Homo sapiens: one gene and its partners. The protein of the gene in region 2 purifies or fractionates together with the protein of the main gene of each other region. This does not show direct contact. Each region holds a gene or a part of one and is shown on either strand. Other genes may lie near its edges.

Region 1 (5,401 bases), on a different chromosome or scaffold from region 2:
GGCCTGGAGTCACTGGCGGAGGCCCTGATGGGGCAAAGGAGTCCACCCTGGGCCGAGCAGCAAGCCCGGGCCGCACAGAGGGCCAGCATGCAGCAGCCGGGGTCCAGTCTGCGGGCACAGCCCGCCTCTCCCAGCACGGCCGCAGTTCCTGAGCCAGGGCTGGGCAAGCCAGGGCTGGGCAAGCCAGGGGCTGGAGGCCACGACTGGGGAAAAACCAACATTTCCCCTGACAGGGCCGCAGCGCGGGGCCTGCGGCTGAAAGGGAGCCCGGAGGCCCATTGATTCCCGCACAATGGATAAAGGAGTCTGCGGTCGGCGTTTCCAGGCCCAGCCAAAGGCGACTTTGTTCACGGCTCCCTCCCTCCCCCCAAGGGGACAGTGATTTATTTTCCCTTCCAGGAGTGGGGCCCCGAGATGGAAACGGGGCGGCTGGCCCGATTCCCCACCTTGCAGGGGCTGGGCCCAGCTCCCACACGTCCACCTCAGCCCGCTGCACACGGGCCAGCCACTGCCCGGAAGGGCCTGGGGCGAGGGAGGAAGGCCCTGAGGCCTGGCTGGGGGCCGAGGTCAGCACCGTACACCCACGGCTATTGCTTCCCCGAATCACAACCCTTCAGACTCTTGCCCCCACAGGGAGCCGACACTGACCCCGCTACCCCCCAGGCATGGGGCACCCCTGGACAGGCACCCTGCCCACCTGGGTCAGGGCTCAGCTTGCCCACCGCAGCTGGCCGGGTGCAGAGGACAGGGGAGTGGCCTCCTAGGCAGGCCACTCAGAGCTGGCCCCCAAGGCCATGCTTGCAAAAGTTCAAAGGTGGCACTTCTCAGAAAGCCCTGAAACGACTTCCTTCAGAGTTATTTGTGAAAGACATTTCATGCAGAACCTCTCAAGTTCCCACTGTGAGAAATAAAATGGAAAGGGAGAAAGCCAATTCCTATATTTTTTCAAATTGGAAAAAAAAAAAGCAGTTTAAGACAAATCCACCAAGATTGTGAAAGTTTGGGAAAAGAGGAACTTTTAAAATATGATCTGAGTGTAGCGATGTGCCGATTCCAGAACTTATGACCCAGCGGGAAATGGCTTTTCAAAAATAACCCAAGCCCTCTGCATGCTGGTCCTTGGCCTAACGAAGGTGCACAGTGGGCTGTTCAGAGCAGGAGAAACACACTTGGATGGACCTCGCGCCCTAGTCCACGCTAGGAAAATCAGCACAGTCCGGAAGAACCTCCTCCCCACCTCCACCCAAACCACAGAGGCCCCTGCCCTTGGAAAGCAGCTTGATCCCAGCTCCCCAGTGCCGCCAGGGCCTTTGCCACGCAAAGCCAGGGCTGGATATCCTCAGCCCCAAGGCCGCAGCTGAGGAGGACGAAGGCGAAGGGGGTGGCCGCTGGGGCGTCTCCACGAAGAGGCGGGCTCTGCCGCCCACTGCCATGGCTGACCGTGGCCATCCACCAGTCAGCTTCAGCCCCAGCCAGGAAACATGGCAGGACAGAGGCCTCCAGAGCCTCCCTGGCCGAGTGGCCAGAGGACAGGCAGGTGTAGGGATTGGGGAGGCCAAACAGATCAAAGAGAATGCAAGTCCAGGCCGCTGGCCATGGTAGGGGCTCGCCCAGTATGGCCTGAGTGCCCACACAGCCCAGGACGCTGCCGGGCCCTCAGAGCAGCCGCTCAGCCAGGCCCATGTGGGCAGGCGGGGGGTAGGGGGGGGTGCTGTGGCATAAGGCCCACCTGGTCACCGCCCGCCACCCAGCACCCGAACGTGCCCATATAAGGCCAGGTTGGATGCGGCGCGCTTGCTGGGCGGCAGGGGAGGGGTGCGAAGCCTCAGGACTGGTGGACACAGCGCGGACAATCCTGAGTGGTCAACACGCCCAAAGGGCCGGCCTGGCCACAGGTCCCGCCTAGCCATGGGGGCAGCCAGCGCTGTGCCCGGATCCTGGAACATGGCGGGCATGAGTCTGCGGGCACACGTCACCCATCGGCTCCGGATGTCCTTGCTGGGGCTGGGTCCCAGGGCATGGCTGCCACTTAGATGTCGGTGCCATGAGCACGTACCAGGCCAGCACAGCGTGTGCCCAGAGGCACGCAGTCCTGGGGTGCGTCACGGCTCTGGGGACTTGTCCACACAACCGCCCGGCACTGCCTGCCTAGAGCTGGGCAGGCCCAGGGCACACGGCTAGGTCGGCTGGGGGACTGGGGGTCTGGGGGTCAGTTTCAGTCCCAGACACCAAGTATATTACCAATATCTCCCATAGCCCATCCTGCCTTCCGTGGGGGTCTCTGCAGGTTCCCAGAGTCCTTATCGGGTCCACTGTGGCCACAAACCGCCCACTCCCCAAGAATCCACAGGTGATTAGCTGCCCTGGACTGCAGGTACGAGTATGAAAGTGTTTGCAAGACCAGGAGCATGTCCTGGGGAGCCAGGACTAAAGCCCACCTGGCCAGCAAGCACGCATGAGGGGAACCCCTCCAGCCAGCTAGGGGAGCCCCGGTGGGTGCTGTGGACAGCCCATGGGTGAGGGGGCCCTGGAAGGAAGGGGGCCTGGCGAGCGGGGCGGCAGGGGCGGGGCATGGCGCGTGCCAGGCGGGCACTGTGGCAGGGTTCAGGGCCGGGCGGGAAGGGGGCGGCGCTGGCGGAGGCCAGGCTGGCCGGGCTGGGCGCCAGAACTCACCTCGGGCGGCGGCGGCCGGCGGGAAGGCCCCCAGCAGCAGCGGCGGCAGCAGGAGCAGCAACAGGGGGCTCGGCGTCATCTCGGCCTGTCCGGACCTGGGGACATTGGGGGCGCCGTCACTAACACGTGGAACTGGGAGATACCGCCCTCCCCGGTCCCGGGCCGCGGGGATCAGGGGTCTGGCCGCCCTCCCCACAGGCCCTCCCCGCCCGCGCTCCAGGCGGAGGAAGCCGCAGCGGGGAGAAGCTGTGGGTATCAAAGGCAGACAAAGGGTTTACACTAATTACCGGGCTCCCCCGCCGCCCCCCCTCTCCAAACACCGTCTGGATTCCTGGCGCTTGTAACTCCGGCCCTGCCCGCAGGACACACAACACTCAGCGCCCCGCAGATAATCGCCTGCGCCATTAGCGGACAAATTTGCGCTGGGGGGGGCCCACGTGGGGCGCGGGGGCGGGGGCGGGGCAGGCCGGGGGCCCGCAGGAGCGGCGGCGGCGCGCATGACCCGTGCCCAGCTGGGGCCCCGAACCCGCCCCTCCCCGCCCCCGCCCCGGACCCCCGCCCTCCCCCGTGTGCCCACCTGGGGTCGCGGCCGCGCGCGCGGGGGGCTCACCTCGGCGGGGGGCTCAGCGGGCGGGCGGCGGGGTCAGGGCCGGGCCCGCGGCGTGCGCTCCGCGGTCATCGCCGCCCCGGGCGCCGCATCCCGCCGCCCCGCGCCCCCGGGCCCGGTCTCGGGGCGGGGCGGCGCTACCTGGGCGCGGGCGGCTCGGGCCGGGTCGGGGTCCGGGCTCGGGCGCTCGGGGCGCGGGGTCCCGGACCGGGCAGGCGGCGGGGGCGAGTCCGCGGGGCCGGGGGCCGGGGCCGGGATCCCGGGGCGGCGGGGCGAGGGGCCCGGGGCGCCGCGCCGCGAGGCGTCCTTCCCTGCGGGGCTTTGTCAACTCTCCCGGAGCGAGCGCCGAGCCCGGACCCCCGACCCGCCCCCGGCACAACTTCCGGCCAATCCGCGCGCGTCAGCCCTCCCCCGTGCCCCGCCCCGCCGCCAAACTTTTCCCCAATCCGCGCGCGCACACCGCCCCCGCCCCGCCGGGCTCCCGGCCTTAACCCTCGCGGTGCGGACGTCCCCGCGGGCGGGCGGCTTCCCCGGGTCCGGCCCCGCCCCCGCCCCCGCCCCGCCCCAACCCGAGCCTCGCCGCGCCCCCGGCCCCGCCCGCGCGCCCTTGGTCCCCGCAGGCTCCTAGGACCGGCCAGGAGCCGCCGCGCCCTCCCCATACCTGCGCCCGCGCGCGCCCGGGTCGGGTCCTCAACTCTCGAGACACCTCCGCGACCCCCAGAGCAGGCTCCGGCCCTGCCCGCGGCAGTCTGACCTCTGCGCAGCCCCGGGCCGGGCCCAGACCGCTCTCTGGTTGCTCAGAAGGGGGCGGACTGGACGGCCGCGGGAGCTTCGAGGCTTCCAGGTCTGCGCCCCGGGGGGTCTTCGGGAGCAGAAGGGAGAAGCAGGGCCTCGCCCAGCCGGAGCTGCTGGGGACGGGGTAGGGGGGGACGGCCGCGGCGATGCAGGCAGGGGTCCTCCCCGGGGCGTTCGGGTTACCTGGTGCCTTTGGCCAAAGGTATGTTCCCACCTGAGGCCTCCCAGCCTCTCACCTGCTAGTGACGGGAATGACAAGAACATTAATCATCGTAATAGACGTCAACATGCGATTCAATCTCCGCTACCGGGCAGGCGGCCCCAGGAGCAGATGAAGAAACGGAGGCGTGGAGAAGACAGCGCCCAGCTCTTCGCGGCTCTTCCTCCACACGCCTCGCCTGCCGTCCCTGCCCAGGGCCCAGCACGCAGGGCTCCCAGGCCGCACCTCCAGCCGCCCCATGGCCTCCCCTCATCCTGCCTCCCAGTCTTGCAACACAAACCTCACGGCCTGCCCACATCCCGCCTCACACCCTCGACTCCGCGGAGTCACCATCCCAGCACCTCCTCCATCCCCCAGAGCAGCCTCTCTTTCTGGGGCCTGAAGCCCCCTCTTCCAGGAAGTCCTCCCAGGAAAGGCTGAAACTGGAGAGGCCTGGCAGCCGGTGTCCCCAGGCCGAGGAGAGCTAGGCGGGGCGTGGGGGGCGCCAGCTGTCAGGGTGTGGGACTCCTCAAGGCCCGAACTACCCGGCCGTCCCAAGGTGCTGGTTCCCAGCCCAGCGTCCTCCACCCCAAATCCCGCGTCTGGGCCAGCGTGGGCGTCGCGAGGGCGGATGGAGGTGCGCTCGGACGGCCCATCCTGCCCCCGCTGGCGCAGCCGCCGCTGTGCACCCGGGGAAGGGTCCAGGGACCGCCGCGTGGTCCTCCCGGCGGGAGAACGTCCTGCGCCGCCGCCGCGGCCCTGTCCCACAAGGAGCCAGCAGCGCCGGGGCCCACCTGCCGCCCTCCCGGCCGGAGCTGCAGTCACGGACAGGTGGGTGGGGCGGTCTCACGCCCGTGGGAGAGCGGCGCTGAACTTCCCGGACAGCTGGCGAGGAGGCAGCGCTCCCACAGATGTGCGGGCTGCCGGACACAGGTGCGTGGAAAGGGGACAGGTGTGCGGAAACGTGGCTGCGAGCGTGCAAAGTATAAGCAGGGAGCGGACAGGCCGGCAGGTGCCGGCCCCCGAATGAGCGGGCAGTGGGAGGGGCACGGGCAGCGTCGCGGCCCCTGGCGGGCGGGGCCGGGACGGGGGGCGGGGCCAGGGGCGGAGCGGCAGACGGGGCGGGG
Region 2 (4,614 bases):
GACAGGTTTCTTTCCTGTTTGAGATGCTCTGCTTTTGACATCCCATGTCTGAAATTAGGAAACCAGAATGCATTCAAGTGACAGAGAGAAAAGAGGCTTTCCTTGACCCCCATATAAATTAGGTCCTCCTCTCTGATATTACTTCTCACAGCTGTGCTATTCAAAGTGTTCTGTGGGCCAGGAGTGTCAGTATTACTCGAAAGCTGCCAGAAATACAGAATGTTGGCCAGGTGCGGTGGCTCACGCTTGTAATCCCAGCACTTTGGGAGGCCCAGGCGGGCAGATCACAAGAGGTCAGGAGTTCAAGACCAGCCTGGTCAACATGGCGAAATCCCGTCTCTACTAAAAATACAAAAATTAGCCGGGGGTGGTGGTGGGCCCCTGTAGTCCCAGCTACTGGGGAGGCTGAGGTAGAGGAATTGCTCGAATCCAGGAGATGGAGGCTACAGTGAGCCGAGATTGCGCCACTGCACTCCAGCCTGGGTGACAGAGTGAGGCTCCATCTCAAAAAGAAAAAAATGCAGAATGTTAAACTCCCCCCAAATCTGCAGAATCAGAATTTGCATTTTAACGAGACTCCCAGGTGATTCATATGCACATTGAAGTTCTAACAGCACTACCTTAAAGCACTATGATTCTTTTCCTCCATAGCTCTTGCCACAACCTGCAATTCTAATTACACATTTATTTATATTTTTTAAATGGCTGCCTTAATGACTAAAGCATAAAATCCATAGGATGTCTTTTAGTGACTAACGTAGTTCCTACCACAGACCAGGTGCTCATTCAAGGTGTGCTGCATGAATGATTCTCTAGGACTTCCCGAACTGCTAGCAGCCTCTGCAATGATGGCTGTACCAGGTTTGCTATTCTAGCCTCTCTCACTGTCCCTGTATATGTCCCTGGGCAGCTTGATGAATTTGATGATTGTGGTAAGACATTTCAATGCAGATATTTTTCTTAGTGCATTTGCACATCATGCTAATCAATGGTCACGCTTGGCAGTAAGTTGTAAGTTGTTTATTAAATTTTAAAATGTTGTGTGTTGTCTCACAAGGGCAACATAAAGGGGAATTTTGTGATATCAAGTTTTCCTGCAAACTGCATGCATAACTGAAAGACTACAAAAACTTAGCTTTGTTAGGTTAAAAGCTTTCAACTAAGGCAACAAAGTCGTAGACTGTTACAGTAGGAAGGGCCTTCCAGGACAAGTTTGCCTCCCTTCCCCTGAGAAGGTAGGGCCCAAATGTTTAAGCTGACTTCCCCCATCTCCAGATTGGTGCTGTGCCAGGGCTTTGCCTTCAGGAGACCTCCTTGACTCACTACCAACCTCTTGCACTAGAGAAGAGATCCATTCATAAGAAAACAAGCTTTCAGCGGAAGGCAAATGACAGACCTCCCAGGGAAATGTTACAATAATAGGGGAACTCCAGATGGTCCTAGTGTTCATACAGAACACTAAGAAAATAAGCTGTGGGCGGCTGCTAATTTCTTGCTTTGGTAGAGGTTAGGAAGTTGGTTTTTTCGCATACACACGCTCACACCTCTCTAGGTCTTTACTAATATTTTAATTCAATGCAATACAGGAGATTCCAACCTGGGCAGGTCAAAAGATGAATAAAATACTTCATTCCTTATTGGCAGAATATTGTATGGGTGTCTCCATGGCTGGAGAGAAAGGGGAGGGACAATCAGGGTGTGAAACTTAGTGTCTGAAGAATTTATTAGGGGAAAAGAACTGTGCCTCTCTGCTTCTGTTAACTCCTTGTTGAGAGTCCTTGAACTAGAACCTCCCTTTAGTCACCTTCAATCCCCAGCCCAGGATTCCCTCCTTCAAAAGACAATCTGTTTCTATCAACCTCTTATTTGTGTAAATATTTATGTATATATTTATTACAGAATAAATAATATACTATGTAAATGTTTAAATATATAATATGCATTTGTATGTATACTACATGTGTATACATATTTGTATATTTAAATATAAACTTGTAATAAATCCATAAGGATGGGGACCCAATTTAATTATGTATGGTGTCCTCACAATGCTTGGCATATAAACACACAATTAATTCAGAATTTCCAACCACAGGAGACATAGAGATGTACCTTCCCAGGTATGTTTACAACATACGTTCACAGATGAATCAAACATGGAAAAAAAAAAAACACATCTACTTTTATGATATACTTGATTATTCTCATGTTGACCAGAAGGAAAAAAAAAGAAAAAAACACCCAAACATATGGAGGGGGGAAAAGCACCAGATTGGGAGTTGAGTCCTGGCTCTAGCCGAGTGTGATAGCTCACACCTGTAATCCCAGCACTTTGGGAGGCTGAGGCGGGTGGACCACAAGGTCAGGAGTTCGAGACCAACCTGGCCAATATGGTGAAACCCTGTGTCTACTAAAAATACAAAACTTAGCTGGGTGTGGTGGTGGGTGCCTGTAGTCCCAGCTACTCTGGAGACTGAGGCAGGAGAATCACCTGAACTGGGAGGCGGAGGTTGCAGTGAGCCAAGATAGTGCCACTGCACTCCAGCCTGGCAACAGAGCAAGACTCCTTTTTTTAATTAGCTGAGTGTAGTGGTGTGCACCTGTACTCCCAGCTACTCAGGAAGCTGAGGCAAGAGGATCGCTTGAACTCAGGAGGATGAAGCTGCAGTGACCCATGATCATACCACTGCACTCCAGCATGGGTGACAGAGTAAAACTTTGTCTAAAAAAAAAAAAAAAGTCCCAGCTCTGGTCCCTGATCTTCTATAAATTAACTATGTGGCCCTAGGCAAGTCATTTTATCTCACTCAACCCCGTGTCTCTTGCCTGTGGAACGGGGACAGTAATCCTCATCTTGCATTTCTAATAGATTGTCAAACAAATGGATAGAAAGCCCATTGGAAACTACATCAGTGAATTAATTTTTAAAATTCAGGTGGAGGATGAATTGTAAATTGCACAGTACTTTAAGGACAACAAAATGAAAAAGAAAAAAAAAAGTTGTTTCAACTGAATGTCACACCTCATGCTGCTTTTTTCTTTCTTTTCTTCCAGGACTCCATTCCCAACTCACCTGACAACGTCCCCCTCAAAGGAGGTAAGATCTTGGAATTAGGTGTAAATGTGTAGTAAGTCATCTAGATAAATGCCATAAAGTGTGAAACCTGATTATCAACCAGAAACAACTCTATGACATGACCCAACAGTAAAGTGGGTAGGGGTGGAGGCAAGGGCTGTTCAGGACTGAGCTGATGCACCTGAATTCATCTTAGCAGCTCCTGAACTCATCCCCACAAGTCTCCCACCAGCTCTTGACACTCCCACTAATGAAAATTCTACCTCTGGCATAGGCAGGACTGCAAGGCAGTGTTGTGTTAAATGCTTGAAACCTGAAATCAGATAAATGGGGGAATGAATCTTGGCTTGACTTCCCACTGGGGAGCCTCAACTCCTCATCTGTTAAATGGGAATAATAATAATACTCACCTCATCAAGGTATTGGAGAAGCCATTCAGATCTCATCTGTAAATTGCTTGGCATGGCAACCAGCACATAGTAATCATTAAATAACTAGTAATAGCTAAAATGCATAATGAAGTCAAGGACTTGTGAAAACAGACTTCCTCCTCACTCCTATATTTCCAATCATTGAAGTCACTAATTAACACGTCGTCTCTACTAGCCTCAGAGAGATGATATGCCGAGTTCAGTTAACATCGATGATGAGAAATTTTCAGATGACCTGATTAATGTTTTTATTGCTCAGAGAAGGAAAAGGAAGACCCAGAGAGGGAAAGTGAAGTATCTCGTCCAAGGTCATACAAAGCCAAGCCTAGAACCCAGAAAGATGTCCTCATCTCTGATACAGTGTCTTTTCTGCCCAAGAACACCAACTCCCATCTCAGTCCTGTAACCTTTAGAACCTAGATGGCAAACACAGCTGGATAGCCAGAAAGCTCAGAGCAAAAAGTAAGGAAGTGAGTTAATGTAGGCACCAGGGTAGTGGCACAAGAGTGTCCTTGAGACCAGAGGACACAGATGACTGGACACAGCTCCTCACACTCACAGCATCACACTTGGAGTGTCCTTCAAGTTTCCCTTGCCCATGCCTTTCCTGTGGTTTATCACCCAGAGACTTCAAAAATAGGGGCAAAAGTCCCCAAAAGACAGGGATTCTGGATCTTTCAAGGCAGACTAATAATCATAGCCTTGTCAACAATATCTCATTTTGGCTGGAATTACTTAGCATGTGACCTCAGTTCCTACCATGTCTATGTAAACAGTCACATTAATATTAAAAGGAGCATAGTAGAATGCAGGGGTAAGCAAACTTTTTCTACGAAGGGCCAGATAGTAAACGTTTAGGCTTTGGGGGTCACTATGTCTCTGTTGCAATTAGTCAGCTCTGCTGTTGTAGTGCTGAGCCAGGCTGACTACACGCAAATAAGTAACCACGGTTGCATTTCCATAAAACGTTATTTATCAAATGAGGTGGTGGGCTGGATTTGGCTTATGAATTGGAGGAGTCACTGCAGGCTTTGGAGACAGATGTTTCAGTTAAACATGTAATGCACGTTCACACGGAGCTTTGGAAAAACCAAAAGGCTCTGAGTG
Region 3 (4,614 bases), on a different chromosome or scaffold from region 2:
CACTGATCTCAAATAGATCATAAGAAGAAAGCACTACAGGTAGTCACATGGGTAAATTAGGGCAGTGCTGAAACGAGAATCAGAAGGACTGGATTTGAGTCCCAGTTATGACACTAGCAGATATTGTAACATCAGATAAGTCACAACACTGTATTGGCCCAGTGTTTCCTCAGCCATAAATGAGGGGTTTGGAATAAACTAAGGTGCTGACATTTTAAAAGGGAACAGTTTTCCTGTGTTTACTGAATATTTACTGAGCATCTAACATGTTTCAGGTCCCGTAGGTAGGTGGTGGGAAAACAAAGAAAAAAAAAGACCACCCTCAAGGAGCTACACAGAACAGACAAGTAGACAGTTACAAAACAATGTGGTTCATATTCTAATAAAAGAATATAGAGAACTAAGAAATGAGAGAAGGGGGAGCATTTAACTTTGCCCAAGGAGACTACGGTCTAGTCTTGAAGATGTTTCCCAAATAGATATGGTAGGCATGGAGTATATCCAACACATGAAGACTCCAAGGTGTGAGAGAGTAGCCAATCTTCAAGGGAATTCAGAGTTTGTGCAACCATGTAAAAGCACTGAGATTAGACAGCAGGCAGGAGAATGTGTAACTAGTAGGCAAGGGAAGTGTTTTAGAATAAGACAGCTTTGATTCACCTGCCTAACTGGCTGCCCCGCTGTAAGTATGAGAAGAACAGTGTGCACTTGATATCTGACTTCTAAAAATTAGCTGACTCACAAATGGTAAAAATTGTTCTCTAGCAATATTTGAACTACAAATTTCTAATAAAGAAAAATGGCGGCCAGGCGCAGTGGCTCATGCCTATAATCCCAGCACTTTGGGAGGCCGAGGCAGGTGGATCACAAAGTCAGGAGATCAAGACCATCCTGGCTAACACGGTCAAACCCCGTCTCTACTAAAAATACAAAAAATTAGCCTGGCGTGGTGGCGGGCGCCTGTAGTGTTGGCGGGCGCCTGTAGTCCCAGCTACTCAGAAGGCTGAGGCAGGAGAATGGCGTGAACCTGGGAGGCAGAGCTTGCAGCGAGCCGAGATGACGCCACTGCACTCCAGCCTGGGCAACAGAGCAAGACTGTCTCAAAAAAAGAAAAAGAAAAAAGAAAAATGGCCAGGCACAGTGGCTCATGCTTGTAATCCTAAGCCTTTGGAAGGCTGAGGTGGACAGATTGCTTGAACTCAGGAGTTGAAGACCAGCCTGGGCAAAATAGTTAAACCCTGTCTCTACAAAAAATACAAAAAAATTAGCCAGGCCCAGCTACGTGGGGGACTGAGGCAGGAGGATGTCTAAAGCCCAAGAGGTCGAGACTGCAGTGAGCTGAGATCACGCCACTGCACTCCAGACTGGGTGACAAAGTGAGACCCAGTCTCAAAAAGAAAAGAAAGAAAAAGAAAAAAAAAGAAAGAAAAAGGAAAAAAAGAAAGAAAAAGAAAAATGTGGCTGGGCGTGGTGGCTCACACCTGTAATCCCAGCAGCACTTTGGGAGGCCGAGGCAGGTGGATCACCTGAGGTCAGGAGTTCAAGACCAGCCTGACAAACATGGTGAAACCCCGTTTCTACTAAAAATACAAAAATTAGCTGGGCGTGCTGGTGGGCACCTGTAATCCCAGCTACTCGGGAGGCTGAGGCAGTAGAACTGCTTGAACCTGGGGGGAGCAGAGGTTGCAGTGAGCTGAGATCACACTACTGCACTCCAGCCTGGGGGACAGAGCAAGACTTGGTTTCAAAAAAAGAAAAATGAAGTCAGTCAGGAGTTCCATTGTTTATAAACCCTAATTAATCAACCAATTTCCAAGAGGCTGAGGTGAGAGGCTCACCTGAGCCCAGGAGTTTAAGGTTGCAGTGAGCTATGATTGCACCACTGCACTTGTACTCCAGACTGGGCAACAGAGTGAGAACTCTTTAAAAAAGAAAGGAATTTAAAAATAAATAAGCCAAATTCCTTCTGAGCCATCACTTCTTAGAAACAACCCATAACATAGCTTTTGCGATTCCCCAGTTTTAGTCTTTTCCTCAGTAGGCACACAGACTCCATTCCTTCTCTCTGCCTTTCTCAAAGCTCAGCCTGATGAAGACAGCAATCAGCAGTGACAAAAGGAAAAGCCAAAAAGGGATCATGAACATTACTCAAAAAGTCAGAATTAACCTCACACAATCAGACCAAATTAAACTTTTCCAACTGCACCCTTTGTTTTGCTGTTCTTGTTTTAGAGACAGGATCTCACTCTGTCACCTAGTCTGTAGTGCAGTGGCACAATTATGGCTCACTGCAGCCCTAACCTCCTGACCTCAAGTGATCCTCCCACCTCAGCCTCCCAAAGCGCTGGGATTACAGGGATGAGCCACCGCCTGGCCAGCACTCTTTCACGATCAATTCTTCCACCTGTGTGCTCTTGGTCCCATTGACTCTTGCTTTCTAAGATTTCTGGCTCCAACAATCATCCCTTCTATTTCAACCTCCACCTCTCTCTTTAGGTTCATCCCTGCAATCACATAAATATATCAAGTTGCCCTTTCCTCGTAAAAAGTCATTCATTCAGCACATATTTTCAAGTGCTTACTAAGCACCTGATACTGTGCAAAGCACTGGCAGTGCCTTCATGAAACTCTGAAGAAGTAATAAAAAATATAAACTCAGATTAACAGAGTCTGTTCTGCTCCAACCCAATAATTCATTTCTAAGAAACCTCCTATTATCAAACTCATGAAATAAAAGACACTTTTCAAAAGGAGCAAAAAGGAATAAGGGACCAGAGTTCCAGACTCAAAATACTAAATTCATTTTTCCCGCTAGAATTTCAACAAGGTATCAAGTTCTCCTACCACTAAGCAAGTCCAGCTTTTAGTTGTACTCAGTTTTTGCTCAAGAGCAAAGCCTTTCTTTTCCCAGCTCCATGAGCATTACCAAAAAAAGCACAACTCTTCAAAAACATTATCAGAAACATCACCCACTGCTGTGCTAAACAAAGCAGAAAGCCACCTTAAACACTTTTTTCCTACTCAAGCTGTGTTACTTTCAAGATAGTGGTTTGCTTAATGCAAATTGTGTTCCCGAAATCATTTGCTGCTGTATGACATCCAATTCCCGCTATGAAAGGGGAAGTCTTGGGATGCTAAAGAAGTACGCAACAGGGGCTCATACCCAGCATGGGCAGGTCAAGAAGGCCTGCCAAGGAAGTGAGACTTCAGGGATGAGTAGGAGGCAGTTTAAGCAAGAAAGGAAAGAGAAGGGGGGAAAGTTGTGCCAAGGCAAAGAGAACAACATTTACAAACGCCCTAAGGGGAGAATGGACACACACACTTCCAAGAATACAACACAGTGGAAAAGAGGGAGGAAAGTGATAGGGGAAATCAAGCAAGAGACACAGGCCATGAGGTCTTGTGAGCCGGAGGAGGGGCTGAATTTACACTGTGAGCAACGGAAAGCCGTTCAAGGGTTTAAGTGAGAAGTCACACAATCTTGCTTCATTTTAGCTACCTCTCCCCACTTCTTCAAGTTGGGCTTCTAAAAAGAGCAGTGTACACTTGGTAGTTTGCATTTCCTCCTACCTTCTCTCCTGAACTCCAGGTATCTGTCTTGTGTAGTCCGCTGACACAACTCCCTTTAAGGTATCTGTTAATCTAGCTGCTCAATGTCATGGCCCTCTCAGGCTGGCCCTTACCTGTCAGGTGGCCCTGCTCACCCTCAACTCCCTCCACTGCTTTCCTCCCCACTTCTGTGGTTGTTCCTCACCAGTCTTTTTTGCAAGTTCCTCTTTCTCCACCCATCCTTTTAAATGTTGTCTGTCAAGATTCTGTCCTTGGCCTTTGATATTTCCAAACGCTCTGTATCTTCCCTAGATGATCTCATCAATGTCTAAGACCTCAAATATCACCCATGTGTTCATGATTTCCAAAATCACATTTACTCAGACCCTCTCTCCCGAACTCCAAATTTATACATTCAACTAGCTTCATTTCAGTGTCTCGCAGGTACCTCAAACAGAATTAAAGTTTCAAAACCAAACTTGTACATAACGTATACCCCTTTACCATTTCATTTCAAATCTGTATCTCCCCTCCATCCCTCCTGCCACTGCCTAACAGAAGCTCATCATGTCTCTTCAGGTTTACTCCAACCGACTACTGCCCTGTGCTGCGTGCCTACACTTTCCTCATCCAGTCTGCTAGCAGTCAGAACGATCTTGCTAACAAGTAAATATGATCAGCCCAGAGCAGTGGCTCATGCCTGTAATCCCAGCACTTTGAGAGGCCGAGGCAGGCGGATCACCTGAGGTCAGGAGTTCGAGACCAGCCTGGCCAACATGTCGAAACCCTGTCTCTACTAAAAGTACAAAAAAATCAACCGGGCATGGTGGTGTGTGCCTGTAATTTCAACTACGCAGGAGGCTGAGGTAAGTGAATCACTTGAACCCAGGAGGCAGAGGTTGCAGTGAGCTGACGTCGCACCACTGCACTCCAGCCTGGGCGACAGAGCGGGACTCTGTCAAAAAAAAAAGAAGCAAATATGATCATGGTATTTCCAGACTTACAATTCCACAATGAGTTCCTATTAAACAGCTCAAATTCCTTAGTCTGATCTAGGCTCTGCCT
Region 4 (4,614 bases), on a different chromosome or scaffold from region 2:
TCCCAGCACTTTGGGAGGCCAAGGCAGGTGGACTACCTGAGGTCAGGAGTTTGAGATCAGCCTGGCAAAAATGGCAAAACCCCGTCTCTACTAAAAATACAAAAATTAGCCAGGTGTGGTGGCACACACCTGCAGTCCCAGCTACCAGGGAGGCTGAGGCACAAGCATAGCTTGAACCCGAAAGCGGGAGGTTGCAGCGAGCCGAGATAGTGCCATTGCACTCCAACTTGGGCAACAAAGCAAGACTCTGTCTCAAAAAGAAAAAAACAGAGAAGGTGGACTACATCAGTATTTAACACTTCTGTGAATGTGAATCACAGGATACATTTAGCACACTGAATAGAAGAGTCCTGGAATGGGAGAAAATATTTACAAATCATATATTGGATAAGGGGCTAACATTCAGAGTATATAAAGAATTCCTACAACTCAACAACAAAAAATCCAACTAATAAATGGGCAATGGTCTTGAACAAACACTTCTCCAAAGAAGATATACAAATGGACAGAAAGCACAAGAAACATGTTCAACATCACTAATCATTAAGAAGATGCAAATCAAAACAAGATACCATCTCATCCACTAGGATGACTACTATCCAAAAGAAAGTTAACGTTGGCAAGGATGTGAAAAAATTGGAACCCTGACTGTTGTTGAGAATGTAAATAAAATGGTACGGCTGCTATGGAAAACAGTATGGCAATTTTCCAAAAAATTAAAAAATTAAAAAGAAAATCATAATATGATCCAGCAATTTCACTTCTGGATATATACCCAAAAGGACTAAAAGCAGGATCTTGAAGAGATATTTGCACACCCATATTGACAGCAGCACTATTCACAACAGCCAAGAGGTGGAAGCAACCCAAATGTCCATCGACAGATAAATGGCTAAACAAAATGTGGTAGGCCAGGCTAGGCTGTAATCCTAGCACTTTGGGAGGCTGAGGCCGGTGGATCACGAGGTCAGGAGTTCAAGACCAGCCTGGCCAAGATGGTGAAACCCCATCTCTACTAAAAATACAAAAATTAGCCGGGCATGGTGGTGGGTGACTGTAATCCCAGCTACCTGGGAGGCTGAGGCAGAGAATTGCTTGAACCCCGCAGGCGGAGGTTTCAGTGAGCCAAGATCACACCACTGCACTCCAGCTTGGACGACAGAGCGAGACTTTGTCTCAAAAAAAAAAAAAAAAAAAATGTGGTATATACTGAAGGCAATCAGAGTATGCTACTCCAAAAATCTGCTGTTTTGCCATATTAATTATCTCAAACTGAAGGCAACCGAGAAATAGCAGATGCAGGAAGGGTTCTCTGCTCTCCCCCTTTCTGCCTGAATGCAGAGAATAGATTGAATTTTGTTTTGTTGTTAATTCTTTGAGGCACAATTGAGATTCTGTTACCTACAATCTGTCTTGGGACATTAAGACACAGGTATAATTAAGACTGTATATTTAAACTTAAGAAATTTTGCACTGGCCAGGCGGGGTGGCTCACGCCTGTAATCCCAGCACTTTGGGAGGCTGAGGCGGGCAGATCATGAGGTCACGAGATCGAGACCATCCTGGCTAACGCCGTGAAACCCCATCTCTACTAAAGATACAAAAAAATTAGCTGGGCGTGATAGCGTGCGCCTGTAGTCCCAGCTACTCGGGAGGCTAAGGCACAAGAATTGCTCGAACCCAGGAGGCAGAGGTTGCAGTAAGCCGAGATCACACCACTGCACTCCAGCCTGGGCGACTCCACCTCAAAAAATGAATAAATAATAATAAATAATAAAATTTTTTTAAAAAGAAATTTTGCACATCTTCAAGAAGTAGCAGAACAAATAATTGACTGATGGCTGTAAAGATGAAATACTTTTGGCCAGGTGCGGTGGCTCAGGCCTGTAATTCCAGCACTTTGGGAGGCTGAGTCTGGCAGATCACGAGGTCAGGAGATCAAGACATCCCGGCTAACACAGTGAAACCCCGTCTCTACTAAAAATATAAAACAATTAGCGTGGTGGCGGGTGTCTGTAGTCCCAGCTACTCGGGAGGCTGAGGCAGGAGAATCACGCGAACCTGGGAGGCGGAGCTTGCAGTGAGCCGAGATCGCGCCACTGCACTCCAGCCTGGGCGACAGTGCGAAACTCCGTCTTGAAAAAAAAAAAAAAAGAAAAAAGATGAAATATTTTTAACTGGGGGCGGTGACTCACGCCTGTAATCGCAGCACTTTGGGAGGCCGAGGTGGGCAGATCACCTGAGGTTGGGAGTTCGAGACCAGCCTGACCAACATGGAGACATCCCGTCTCTACTAAAAATACAAAATTAGCCAGGGGTGGTGGCACATGCCTGTAATCCCAGATACTTGGCAGGCTGGGGCAGGCGAATCGCTTGAATCTGGGAGGTGGAGGTTGCAGTGAGCTGAGATCGTGCCATTGCACTCCAGCCTGGGCAACAAGAGTGAAACTCCGTCTCAAAAAAAAAAAAAAAAAAAGATGAAATACTTTTGTGAGTACATGAAAGTGTTAGGGACTCTTAGTAGTTGTCTAGTTTCGTTTGTATGTACATTCCTTAATGTTATTTGTTTCTTTTCATTAAAAAATATTAACATCAAATAAATTTGTATACTTTTTTAACTGTTAGTCTTTCTTTTGTCAGCTTAATTCACAAGCCTTAAGCACATAGGAGAATAGAGGAAAAATTTCTCCTACCCTAGAATACATATAATGAACTATACAGCCTTTAAATAAAAGGAAATTATCACAAGTGCAACATGAACCAACTTGAGGACATTGAGTGAAATAATCTCATCACAAGAAAAAAAATACTATATAATTCCATTTATATGAGCTATCTAGAATAGTCAAATTCCAAGAAACAAAGTTTGCTAGGGCTTGGGGGATGGGAAAATAGGGAGTTGTTTAATGGGTATAGAGTTTCTCTTTTGCAAGATGAAAATGTTCTAGGGATTGGTTGCACAACAATGTGGATATACTTAAGGCTATTGAACTTAGATATGGTAACACGGTAAATTTATGTCACGTATTTTTTAGCACAATAAAGATAATTTCAGAGGCAATGAAAGTAAATGAAGTAAATGAAGTTAAAATATGACATCTGATCTGAATTGTTAAAATTATGTATTTCTAATACTTACCTACACTGCTGAGAAACATAGTAAGATATAAAATCCTAATAGATCTCCATCGGCTCTTATAATGCTCTTCAGTCTCTAAAATGTCCCATTCTCTAGGTGTAAAGAAGAAAAAAGTAGTATAAATTTATCTCATTACATGTGGATCTTAAGTGTCAACAGTTTTATTCTCTAGTTATGAAAATGATGTGATAGAGGTAGAATTTACCAATATTGATTCTGCTACACTAATTTATCTATGAATAAGCATTATTTTTTTGAATTTCCATGGATTGTATATATGCATTATTGTATACAGAAATTTGGGAAACAGTATAGTTTTAAAAGAGGAAACTTTTTGCAAGGCAATTATTTTGCTACCATTGACATGCACAGATTTATTAATCAAGAGTGTTGCAATTTGTAAAAATGAATAAATTACGTCAAGATAAATCAAATAAACTAGCTACAACTAGATCCCCCGTAGCTACTAAGTACTAAAAAATAATAACTGTCATCATTATAACATGCTCTACTTGATGACAGCAAATTAAATTGCTGCAGGAAGCTCTTTTGGCTTCCTACTTCAGAAAACAGGAATGATACCAGGAAGGTTTAACGTAACCTAAGACATTTTCAGCCCTGGGACCTCCTAAATGGGTTACCAGATAAATTTTATCAGCAGACCAAAGAGAGACCATGACTCCCCAGACTTAAGTGATCTTTTGGATAAGCGTCTGATCTGGACCAAAGGCATGTATACTAAGTAGATATCTTACCTCCATTAGGTGACACATGAGTCTATATACTCATTACATTTTCACACACACAATAGAAAGAGTTAACAAGTTCACCTTAACGTGAGCATTATCTTTTCAAATAATCAAGACATGCAGAACAGACAAAATGCCTTCTTATGTTCCAAGATTAATTTCTTAAAAATAAGCCTTAGAACTGTCAAATTAGTCTTCAAAAAAGAAACTTTTTTTTTTCAAACGTGATATGGTTGGGAGTGGTAAAGAGGAAAGGAAGAAGAGAAACAATGTTTTTAGATGTATTATATGCCAAACATATTAGTTCCTAATATATTTAAAGTGTTTAACACTATATATGTCATTCCATATAAACAAACCTCTTCTGAGTCAAAGGAGATAAGAAAAAAATAAAAATAATGTAGCTTACCTGAGAAAAATACCAGAACCCTAGATGCCCATACTTTGAAATCAATATACTAGAATTTGAATAAAAAACCAGATATATCTAAGTTAGGGAATCAAGAAGTAAATTATTTGATTCTAAAAAAATAATAAAATTGTTTGAGTGACTGATTTAGAGCTCAGACAAAATCTTTCTTCTTTTAATGACAAATGACAATTATTAAATATTGAAAGGATAAAATTAGAAAATAATAATTTAATGGCCACTTTCTATGCTATAATGGAAGGATCATCAATGGATGCTAAAACAACTGACTGGAAGATTGTTAAGGAGAGGATAGT

Evidence for each region.
Region 1: the proteins of TNFSF8 (region 2) and FGFRL1 purify together in Homo sapiens (affinity purification with mass spectrometry; 2 studies listed by BioGRID and IntAct, with this or other methods). This does not show direct contact.
Region 3: the proteins of TNFSF8 (region 2) and PTPN2 purify together in Homo sapiens (co-immunoprecipitation; 3 studies listed by BioGRID and IntAct, with this or other methods). This does not show direct contact.
Region 4: the proteins of TNFSF8 (region 2) and MFSD8 purify together in Homo sapiens (affinity purification with mass spectrometry; 2 studies listed by BioGRID and IntAct, with this or other methods). This does not show direct contact.

The regions. Positions count from the first base shown.
Region 1 is NC_000004.12:1,009,837-1,015,237, reverse strand, and holds the start of FGFRL1 (fibroblast growth factor receptor-like 1 precursor), read right to left. Parts: upstream 3,613-5,401; 5' UTR 3,284-3,612; intron 3,267-3,283; exon of another isoform or gene 3,251-3,266; intron 3,098-3,250; exon of another isoform or gene 2,961-3,097; intron 2,775-2,960; exon of another isoform or gene 2,769-2,774; coding exon of another isoform or gene 2,753-2,768; coding exon 2,674-2,752; intron 1-2,673. UniProt on the Homo sapiens protein: Has a negative effect on cell proliferation.
Region 2 is NC_000009.12:114,916,579-114,921,192, reverse strand, and holds part of TNFSF8 (tumor necrosis factor ligand superfamily member 8), read left to right. Parts: intron 1-3,054; coding exon 3,055-3,097; intron 3,098-4,614.
Region 3 is NC_000018.10:12,876,926-12,881,539, forward strand, and holds part of PTPN2 (tyrosine-protein phosphatase non-receptor type 2), read right to left. Parts: intron 1-4,614. UniProt on the Homo sapiens protein: Non-receptor type tyrosine-specific phosphatase that dephosphorylates receptor protein tyrosine kinases including INSR, EGFR, CSF1R, PDGFR.
Region 4 is NC_000004.12:127,954,362-127,958,975, forward strand, and holds part of MFSD8 (major facilitator superfamily domain-containing protein 8), read right to left. Parts: intron 3,232-4,614; coding exon 3,140-3,231; intron 1-3,139. UniProt on the Homo sapiens protein: Outward-rectifying chloride channel involved in endolysosomal chloride homeostasis, membrane fusion and function. Conducts chloride currents up to hundreds of picoamperes.